Regions from separate parts of the Homo sapiens genome. Here region 1 is linked to region 2. The links come from fine-mapping of genetic effects on gene expression. A gene starts in region 2. The other region holds a variant in brackets. All regions are shown on one strand. Distances are from middle to middle.

Region 1 (5,376 bases), 29 kb before region 2:
ACAGCTAGGCATCAAAAAAAATTTTTAAAAACTTCCCAGGTGATTCTAATATTAAGCGAAGTTTGAAAATTACTGGTAGCTCCTCTCTCCTTTCCCTGAGTTTCTTCTCGCCACTGTTTTGCCCTAGCTGTCAAACAGCCTGCCTTCAGGCTAAGTCATTTCCGTCCCCCCCTTCCCCCCCAACCCCCGCCATCCCCACCAGGTGGATTCTTGGGTATACAGAACTAGGAGAAGCTAGCTTCCCCTCCACCCTTTCTCCCCTGGTTCAAAGGCTCTGGGACTGGCCCATAGAGGCCTTCCCAGAATACAGGACTGCAACAGTGTGAGTGGGAAGAGGCAGACCCAGGGCAGACTCCCGACCCAGCAGTGTGGCCTTAGGTAAGCCTCCTTGGGCAAGCCACTAAAATATGTTGCCTGTAAAGGGGGAACAACATCTCTGAAATCAGCCTGTAGAGTCACAGCGTCTTGGGAAGATCAACAGAGATGATATGTGAATGTGTTTCTAAAATATTAATGTGCATGACAGCTGCGATGGTTTCCTATCCTAGGACAACCATTTCAAATTTAAAAATCTTCCTTTCCCCTACTTCCCACACAACTAAGTAAGAATTTTAAGCAAAATTTTATCTTAGCATCCAAAAAAGATGAATATGCATGTGTAGTATCTGTGTTGATATAGGTAGGTATGATTCAACAGTTACAGCTTGCTGCATCACTAGTTACTAGAAGGCAGTGATTCTGTGACTTGAAGATATTTTAATTAGCACCAAACACACTGAGAGTGTTCAATAAACATTAACCAATGAGGCCTAATTTAAGACGGCATCATATAAGTCCACACTATGCCACTATTGACATGAGGAGTACTGCTTATTGCTTACCCAAATGACACATTTTCACCTTTTAAGTAAAGTATAGCACCTTCATTTAGCCATTCCGCTGATCTGCAAACTGAGAGACCAAGAGACCTTGGTTTATTCAAAATTGGTTCTCTGTTTTACTAAAAGGAGTCGTCCATTAAAAGTTATGCTCAATACTAAATACCAGTTAGAATAGATACAACTGTGCTGCCTTCACCTACACTAAGGGCTAGGGGTTGAGAGTAGAGAAAGACTCCTCTCCCCACTCTTTGTTTTTCCACGTCTATCCTTAAACATTCTTTGAGGATCTGATTCTCGAAAGGGTTTTTGTTGTTTATGTTTGTTTGTTTGTTTCTTTTAATAGCTACAAATCTCCTTGGGAGGGACAAGGAACCTTGATGTGAACCACATGTGGAATACAGCAATGGTACCCAAGCTTTTTGGATTTCACAGATCAAGTTTAAAAGATTTTGGGGGATCTACCTAGGACTGCTAATTTTTTATTTTTCTGAGAGAGGACATCAACCAACAATAACTATCGTATTTCATAACAGAATGGACAATTCAAAATAACTAAAACTATGAAGCATATAGTCTTAGAATAAAGAATTGTCCTGTTCAAGAAAGGACAAGTGTAACCTTAAAATTGTTATAATACATCCGGATAAATTTATTACATAGATGGCCCTACATTTCCTATGGGTCTGCGGTTGTGAGCCACTGTTCTAGACGGCTAGGAGGGTTTGAAGTGAGTTGAGAACCTTTACTGTCCTGAAGATGGGGTAGGGGCTAGACAAGGGTATATTCTAAAAAGAGGAAAGCGCTACTGTAATAATCTTGCCTAGGATTACATACAGATGGGCATAACAGAGTCCCAGGACTTCACCCCTTCGGTGTAGAGCAGGGATGGCAGGGATGGCAAGAGCCCCACTTAGGATACCTGGAAAAAGAAATCTCCGCAGCAAAGGGTCCTTGTGCTGACTTTTCTTTTTCATTTACGAGTGTACCCTCTGTCTCCTTGGGGGCCCACCTTCTTATTCCCAGCAGGAAAGGGGAAGGGGGAGGACAGGAAATGTGGAAACCGCGTTAACAGCCTGATTGTGAACCAGCACTGCGACTGAGATGCGAGGAGGGAAGGACAAAAGTCCCTCCCTCGCTTTTCAAAAAGTAAGCCACAAAAGTTATAGAAACATTTTCTATTAAACATCATCTCCATTTTGCAGAGAACCTAAGGCTCCGAGGACTTGCCCAGGGCCATACAGCCGGTGAGCCCCAGGGCTCAGCCACAGCCCAGGTAACGAGGACAGGGCTTGCTCCAGCCACCATTGGCTGCCTCTTCGGCCTCCCTCTCTCAGGTGAGACAGTATGTCAGGTGAGGCAACTGAAACAATGTCCCTCAGTTCGGATGCATCCTCCCTCTTCGTTTCCTGTCATGAGACAGGTTTCTCCTCTTCCTGGATGTGGTTAAAAAAAAAAGAAGAAGAAAAGAAACAAAAGAAAAAAGGAAAGAAACGCAAAGCAAAGCCAAGCCCAACGTCTTGGCTCTCAGGGTTGCACCTCCTTTCTCTACCCGCGGGGTCTGGGCCGGCGGGGTGTGGCCGCAGCCCTGGGGCGCGAGAAGCCCATCCGGGCCCGAGGTGCTGGGCGGCCTGGAGCGCTGGCTGCCCCCAGGGCCGGCGGCTGTCCCTGGGGTTTCCCCGCTTCTGGGCTTTCCCCGCTTCTGGGCTCGGTGGCCGCGCGGGCGGGCGCCAAGTGACTCAGCCGTCCCCGAGGGCGTTCCGGGAAGCGGCCGGGGGCGCGGGCTTTCCTGTCGCCGCAGCGTGTGAGTCCCCAGCGCCGAAAGGGGATCAGAAA[C/T]CGCTGGGCGGAGCAGCGGGAGGAAGCTGCGGCGCGCAGAGCAGAGTCAGCGCCACCGTCTTTCGAGCTGGAGCGGAGGGAACGTGGCCTTGACGTTGCTGAAGCTGAAGCGCCGGGCGGGCGCCCGGACCCCGGGGCGGGGCAGAAACGAGTCCGTTCCCTACTGCGGGGCGGGGGCAGGGCTGGAACGGGAGTTCAGGAGGGACAAGGACGTGGAAGGAGCCCAGCAGAGGGCACCCGGGACCCCCGCGGCCGGGCCGAGTTTGAAGGGAGCCCCTCTCCCCCTCCCCCTGGCGGAGCCCCCTGTAGGGTCTGACCTGGTGCCCCGCAACAGGAGCGGGAGGAGGAGCAGGCCCAGAGCGGCCGGGCCCCAGCCTAGAGGGGCGCTCGAGGGGAAGCGAGTGAAGTGAGGGCTCCGCCAGAGCAGCACCCCCTTCCCCGCCGTCCCTCCCGGACTGGCCGGTTCTCGTCAGAGATTCCTTTGTCTTCGACGCTGGTCCCTCCACACCAAGGTGGGAGGCTGAGGTGGGAGGTGGCAGAGCGGTGGGAGTGGGAGCAAGGCCGGAGCGTGGGTGGAGGCGCTGGCCGCGGGCTTGCAAGGATGGCACAAGGGAGACATCCAGGACAAACCATGGGGAACACAGCTGCCACTGAGAGAAGCTGCCCGGAGGAGGAAGGGGCTGCAAAGTTCAACCACCAGGCAAGGCAAGTCCACGAACAAAATCCCGGCTCTAAAAACAGAGCAGCAATTGTCACTGTGGGTTAGACGCTTTGAGTTACCTCTATTTTCATTTATGTCTAAGATAAATTCAAGAGACAAGGAGAAAGTCAGGAGGTTAAAATTCCAGCCTCTGGTCCCAGCTCCCTAAAGCCAGCTCCCTTCTTGTCTTTGCCAAAGTTTGCTTCTATGAATCAGTAATTAACCCCCACTTTTTTTCTTATGTCAGAGTTCCTTCAGTCACAACCAAGAGAGTTCTGACTAATAACACACCTTTTAATCCAGCAATTTTACTTCTGGGAGTTTATTCCAAAGAAATATTACATAACAAAAGAGCCATATGCCTCACAATATTCACTGTGGGCTTGTTCATAAAATTAAAACAATCATAACTATAAATGTCCAGTAATGGAGGCAGGGAATAAACTGGCATATTTATATGATAAACTACTATGGGCCGGGCGTGGTGGCTCACGCCTGTAATCCCAGCACTTTGGGAGGCTGAGGCGGGCAGATCACCCGAGGTCAGAAGTTCAAGACCAGCCTGGCCAACATGGCGAAACCCCGTCTCCACTAAAAATACAAAAACAAGTTAGCTGGGCGTGGTGGTGTGGGCCTATAGTTCCAGCTACTTGGGAGGCTGAAGCAGGAAAATCACTTGAGCCCGAGAGGTAGAGGCTTCAATGAGCTGAGATCGTGACACTGCACTCTGGCCTGGGCAACAGAGCGAGTCTCCGTCTCAAAACAAAACAAAACCTACGGAGCCTTAAAATGTTATATGTAGGGTTTTATAACTTGAATAAAGACTTCGGTTATAAGAAAGCAAGACACAAAATCATATATATATATAATATATATATACACACACACAGTGTAATCACAATATGAAAATGTACATAGAAAAAAAACACTTGAAGGAAATCCACCAAAATGTTACATCTTTGGGTGATAGAATTACATACAAGTATTTTTTTCTTTCTAAAACATTTATGTATTTCCCAATTTATCTACAATGAGGATAAGCATGTATTATTAAAAAGTATGAAAACATTGATTTTAAAATTTTACATATATAGTATATAATTATATATACATAATACATATATATATACTATATATATATATATAGTATATATATATATGTGAAATTGCTGCTGAATAGGAAATCACCGGGCCTGGGTGAAAGATGATAAAATTTACTTGAGCAATTTTTCCACTAATTGAATGATTTTTCTGCAATTTAAAAAGGGTATATGGAAGTTAAAGAGGATGGGTCAATGTTTATACATCTGTATTAGTTCGTTTTCACACTGCTGATAAAGACATACTGGAGACTGGGCAATTTACAAAAGAAAGAGGTTTAATGAACTTGCAGTTCCACATGGCTGGGGAGGCCACAAGTCATGGTGGAAGATTAAAGGCACTCAAGAGAAGAGAGAGCTTTTGCAAGGAGACTCCCGTTTTTCAAAACCATCAGATCTCGTGAGACTTACTCACTATCACAAGAACAGCCCGAGAAAGGCCTGGCCCCATGATTCAATTACCTCCCACCAGGTCCCTCCCACAACACGTGGGAATTCAAGATGAGATTTGGGTGGGGATACAGCCAAACCATATCAATGTCCAAGATATTAGTGAAAGGGAAGGGCATGCCACAGTAGGCCAGAGGAGAGAAAACATCTGAGTTTTAGAATACACAAAAAGAAAATGATGAGATCGCAGCTGATTCTTGATTGGTGAGGACTTGCTGGTTTGTGGGCAGAAGTAATGGAACTTTTAATGGCAAAGGGAAGAATACACTCAAACATTATTTAAGATAGGAGGTAAGGGAGTAATGGGTAAGGTTACTGCATCATGAAAAGTTTTGTTTACAATGGGTTTACTGTATTTATCAGGATAATATTTTTTAATCCTGAAGAATAGGTGTGCAAAATGAATTTAACA
Region 2 (5,376 bases):
TTACTCTTATTTCCATAAGCAGTATATTATGCATGTCTAATTTCCGTGTAGCACAATAACAGTGTGTGGATCATTAAGTGGGTCAGTTGCGTTTCCTTTCAAAGCTGAACTCTCATCAGGTATGTTCAGTCTTCAAAGTTTGCTGATCCTGTAGCAGGGCTGTCTGCTTTCAATTTAGGGGGAAAATATCATTAGAAGAGAATGTTGGCTTAGACACAGAAGCCAGGGAGGGCAGAGGAACCTAACAGGCCAGGGAGGGCCCTCCGATCCTTCATGATTAGCTGTACAACCTCAGGCAGGCCAATTTACCCCTCTGGGCTTCTTTTCCCCCTCCCCAGGGTGGGGAACCCGGGGTACTGGTTTGCCATTCTTTTAAGCAGTAGTCTCTGTTTTTTTTTGTCTAAATGAAACATATGCAGAAGCCCAAAATATAAAGCAGGTGAAAGAACAGCTGCCTAAAGCTGCCTTTGACATATCTTCATAGAACCCTGGGGTTCTGGCTCATCCTATAATCTATTAGTTTGTAAGAACGAACAGGGCTGGCAAGCACCCCTATGCAACTCTCACAGATTTGAGGGAGGGGCCAGAATAACACCCGCATGGTGAAAGGTGGCATCCCAGGAGCATTCCTAGTGTACCTGGAGGTTAACTTGAAGGCCCCTGCAAAAATAGGTGAAGAGGAACCTTTCATTGTAAACTTCTGACGATAGTGGTTAAGAGGCATACTTGGAGTTTTCTCACACTCAAAAAAACTCAAACCAAGTGATTTTTATCTCAAATCTACCTCTCCAGATGGTTGGTGAGGATTCAATGAAGTGTTAAGTTATGCATCAATTTCAAAAGAGTCAGTTTTGAAACCTGTGGTTCTCCAAGCTCTAAAATCCTAAGCTATTTGTCCTAATGACACAGCAGACTGAACTCTAGAATACCACAGGAATATCACACCACTGCAAATTACTAGGTGGTGCTGAGTCTCCCAAAACACAGAAGTGAAACAAAAGCATTGCACTGTTTTTGAAATGCATATTCGATATGGACTAATCAAATAGGTTTTGAGATTATTTTCCTGGAGGCAGAATTATTCCGCACGGTTACACAGCCCTTAGTTTTCCCCTTTGTTGTATCTATCTATGTATAAACACATGGCCTATATAGTAGGCTATTTTCCTCTCGCTGAAGCTTCTGAAGACAAGGCCTTTTTGTCAAGGGTAAGTGCAAAACCAGTCAACCTTACAAAAGGAGTCATTTAATGCTCAATTTTCCAACTTTCCTATGATTAAACACTTCTAAGCTCAAACGCTGTTATTGTAATCTAGATGGTGTTTTCTTTCCCCCTTCCCCAACAAATGTTTAAATTGTCTCCGCTGGATTCCCCCATCCCCAACTCCCCCCTACCCCCATCTGACCTTGAAAACAGAGAAGTTTTCCTTTTCTCTACTTACCCTAAACTATTTAAAAATGGAGGCCCTCTGACCTTTTTACAACACTCTTCTTGTCTGACACACCAAATGTTAATCTGAAAGCCAAGAGGAGGGAAAAGGTCTTGCAGGGCGGGGAGGGGGTTGTGGAAAGGGGGTGGAGGTACTATATATTTGGCATCAGCTCAGAAATTCAGAAATGTTTGTGCAACCACTCCCCCAGCCAGGATCCTCCCCCACCCCCCACCCGCAACTGCCTTCTAACACATTAATAAAAAAAGATGTGAGCAGACGAAATTGGAGAGCCCAGGAGGGACAGCTAAGGCGGTCATGATTTTGTACCCAGGCAAGACCACTGATCACCATCCCACATGTCCACCCCTCCTCCCTCCCTTCCAACGTGCCAAGTTTAGGATTGGGACCTCTGCAGCTTCCACCCCCATCCCCTGAGGTGGCCCGGTAAACTTGCGGCAGTACCACCCATTAACAGCTTGTGTGAGGCAAACGGAAGGACTGACACAGCAGCCTCTGCGCGTCGGGACAGCAGCGCTGTGCACCTTAAGAATCGTTTATGTTCTTTAAAAAAAAAAAAGAAAAAAAAGTGCAATGAGCGCACAGGCCTGGAATACATTAACTTGTGAACCGACTCTATCACAACTCGAGAGAGTCCGTCTCTCCCTCAAACAAAAAGAAGGTGGGGGCGGGGGAGAAAGGCCAAGGCACATTACCATCCTGTCCCGAGCTTTCCAGATACTCCGTCAGGTCACAGCCAAACGCGCTGGCGGCTCCCTTTCGTTTCAGCTTCTGCTTAGCACCCTTGTTCTTCATGAGTTAGTCCCAAAGAGGCTGCCCCTCCGTCTCTGCCGCCCCTCTGCTTGGCACCGCTGTAAGATGGGCTCCCGGGCTAGATCACCGGCTGCCCCGCGGCTCTGGGGGGCCGCATCGGAAGATGGAAGAACTTGGGCTGGGGGCCCTGCGCATGGACCCCGCGGGCCGCGGGCCGGCAGAGCCTGAGATCCACCCCGCGCCGCTCCGGGGCCGCCGTGCCGAGGCCGTGCAGACTGGCAGCCGCGGGCCGGCTCGCCTGGGAGTGTCACTTCCTCACTTGGAGTCCTAGGGACTTTCACAGGCTCCTGCGGTGTCTTCGGGTGTTTCTCCTCAGCTTAAGAGGGAGGGCAAGCTCTCCCCACCCCTTACTAAGTGCCCCGGAGACGACGCGGACGCGGGGCGAGGAGACTGCCCAGGGGGCTGCGGTGGGTCCTGCGCCCTGGGCCCGCTGTCTCGCCTTCAGACGACTTTGGTAGAGCGAAAAACAAGCATCCTGTCGCTGCTGCCCGCCCTCACGCCTTCCTTTTTTTCCTGTCTTACAAATCCTAGGATCATCCAGCTCAGGAAATGCTGGAAGGAAGTTAGCTAGGGAGGGGGGCGGTGGGTGGAAATTTTTGGCAGCTCGGTGCTTGTGAGTGTGTGGAGCTAGAGGAAGTAGGTGGGTGGGTTGAGGAGCACGGGGTTGGGGTAGAGAACGCGTTCTCCCGAGAGCAGTTCTGCGACTCCAGAGATAACTGGGCAGCCCCGGAGGAAATCGCGCTCTTCTCGCAGGACCCGCAGCCGCAGCCGCCGCTTCCTGCCCCGCCGAGCCGGCTCTTTGAAGTGGCGGGAGGAGGTGCGCTGGCATTCTGCGGGGACCGTGCTGGTTGGGACTTTCAGAACCCTCTGCCCTGGTTTTATCCTCATTGTCATCGTATCTTTGACACTTTCTATTTCGGTGCCCGCCTGTCTGCTACGCAAATACTTAAAGAGTAATGACAGAGACAAACAGGGGACTCCAGCGGAGAAACCTGACAGGCAGTGGCTTCACGCCGGCCACTCCCATCCCAACCTCCTCTGCAGCGTTCGTGCACCCCCACCTCAGCTCACTCCCCTCCCACTCTGGGGTAAAGATACCCCTGGGCAAAGAGAGGCTGCAGCTTTGTAACCACTGCCCAGGAAATCAGATTTCTGGTTACATATTCAAGACACACACACACACTACTGCAAAGTTTTCTAAATGGAAGTGATTTGGGGGGGACAAACCAGGATTTAAGATGCCTCTGACACATGAAATGTGAAGAAAGCAGTCTCCCAGGTTCTTTCATAATTTGTTTCAAGTTGTTTCAAGAGGGCATGTTTTTTTCTTCTCCAGTTAGATTTTAAATTCTTTAACTTCTGTGTACTCAGCACACAGAAAGCACTCAAATTCTTGTGATTTAACCATTTGAGGATTAGATGAAACTTCCTGTATAAATTCAAATCCATATACAGGCTTGAAGGATAGGGGCATATGTCATACAGCTCAGATTGCTGGCAAAGCTGCATCCGTAGCATTTTAGGTACTGAATCCCTTTACAGTCACTGTCTCTCTATGTAACCTTAACAGTCTATGAACTTTGACCCTTGACATTTTCTCTATGTCAGAGGTCACAACTTGATAGCCACCCTGCCAGATCTGGCCCATAGATGTACTTGGCTGGCAGACACCATGCTTTAACACGTTTTAAAATTAGTAGCTAGCATTAAAAAGTTAAGAGATTTCACATAAAATCTGAATTTCTGGCTTCTCTTGAAAAAATGGAAGATCTAGTTACACCACAAGTGCATTCCCATATGGCAAGGACGGCTGATGCTGAGTTGTGGCAGGCCCCTTGGAGGCACCCTCTTTAGAGAGACGACTCTTGCAGTTTTGCAGACCCCACGGCCTGTCTTCCCCCTTTTGCACCTGCCTGGCCTCTGCTGCCACTTGAGTTTGCAGCCCAACCTCTATGAATTGTCTTTCCTGTTTTTCATTTTCCATCTCTCAGTGACACTGAGAAGCATTTGCCCCAGTCATCTTGGTGAAATGTCTTCAAGTAACCACAGACTCATTTGTCTCCTTCCTCTCCCACCTGCAAGGTAGTCCCGCCCAGACGATGAGCTCTTCACCATGCCTCTCAGCTTGGTTTATTCCTTTCCAGGCCCACTCAGTGAGGACCATCCACTCCTCAATTATTAAAGTAACTCCTAGTGGGATTTGTTGAGTCCAATCTCCTCCACTTCCTCCATCCTATGTATTAAAAGCTTGAGGAGTCATCTTGAAGGATTGCTGTTGTTATATGCCTGCCTGCCTTGCTGAAAACCTTTCAATAGCTCCCCAGTCCTACTTTTAGGGCAGCAATTTCTAAGCATTTTGTAAACTGCTTGGAGAGTATCTGATAAGGTATTTGGTACAATGGCTTGTTCCTCCCTTTATTTATAGAGAAGCAGCTCCATATGGGACTATAATGATCACTATTAGCATTTGCTTAGCAGTTTACTTCAGCAAGGACTTTTGCATTCATTCTTTCATCTGACTTACGTGGATTTCATCATCTTGTCAGCAAAAGAGAGAGGCTGAAAGAGCCCCTTTTCTGAGTGCAAATAATGGAGAAATTGCCAAGCCCTGTTAATTACCTTTTTAAATATTTCAAAACTTCCTTTTAATGTTTCACTTTCAAGTAATTCCAGCTTATAAATAATTTACAGGCCGGGCGCAGTGGTTCACGCCTGTAATCCCAGCACTTTCGGAGGCCGAGGCGGGCAATCACGAGGTCAGGAGATCGAGACCATCATGGCTAACGCGGTGAAACCCCGTCTCTACTAAAAATACAAAAAAATTAGCCGGGCATGGTGGTGTCGGGCGCCTGCAGTCCCAGCTACTCGGGAGGCTGAGGCAGGAGAATGGTGTGAACCCGGGAGGCGGAGCTTGCAGTGAGCCGAGATGGTGCCACTGCACTCCAGCTTGGGTGACAGAGCGAGACTCCGTCTCAAAAAAAAAAAAATTTACAAAAAAATAGTCAAGGAATTCCCATATACCTTTCACCCAACTTCCCCAAATATTAATATCTTATACAATGAGAGTATAGTTATCAAAATTAGAAAGTTTATATTGATACAATAATATTAA

The links. PIP is the estimated chance that this variant, and not a neighbour inherited with it, causes the effect.
Region 1: its variant is fine-mapped to the expression of ARHGAP31 in whole blood (INTERVAL, PIP above 0.99). The same link has a PIP of 0.9 or more in blood mononuclear cells and monocytes.

The regions. Positions count from the first base shown.
Region 1 is chr3:119,320,464-119,325,839 of GRCh38, reverse strand. All of the region lies in intron 1 of ARHGAP31 (Rho GTPase activating protein 31), which reads right to left. It overlaps ARHGAP31-AS1 (ARHGAP31 antisense RNA 1), which reads left to right and starts at 3,080. Exons shown (of 2, transcript NR_046748.1): 1 at 3,080-3,226. RefSeq lists enhancers at 1,695-2,551, 2,552-3,409 and silencers at 2,373-2,722, 2,773-3,132. The variant C/T (reference allele first, on the strand shown) is at 2,715.
Region 2 is chr3:119,291,775-119,297,150 of GRCh38, reverse strand. It overlaps ARHGAP31 (Rho GTPase activating protein 31), which reads right to left and starts at 2,768. Exons shown (of 12, transcript NM_020754.4): 1 at 2,147-2,768. The coding sequence starts at 2,246. RefSeq lists a silencer at 2,336-2,455 and an enhancer at 3,296-3,345.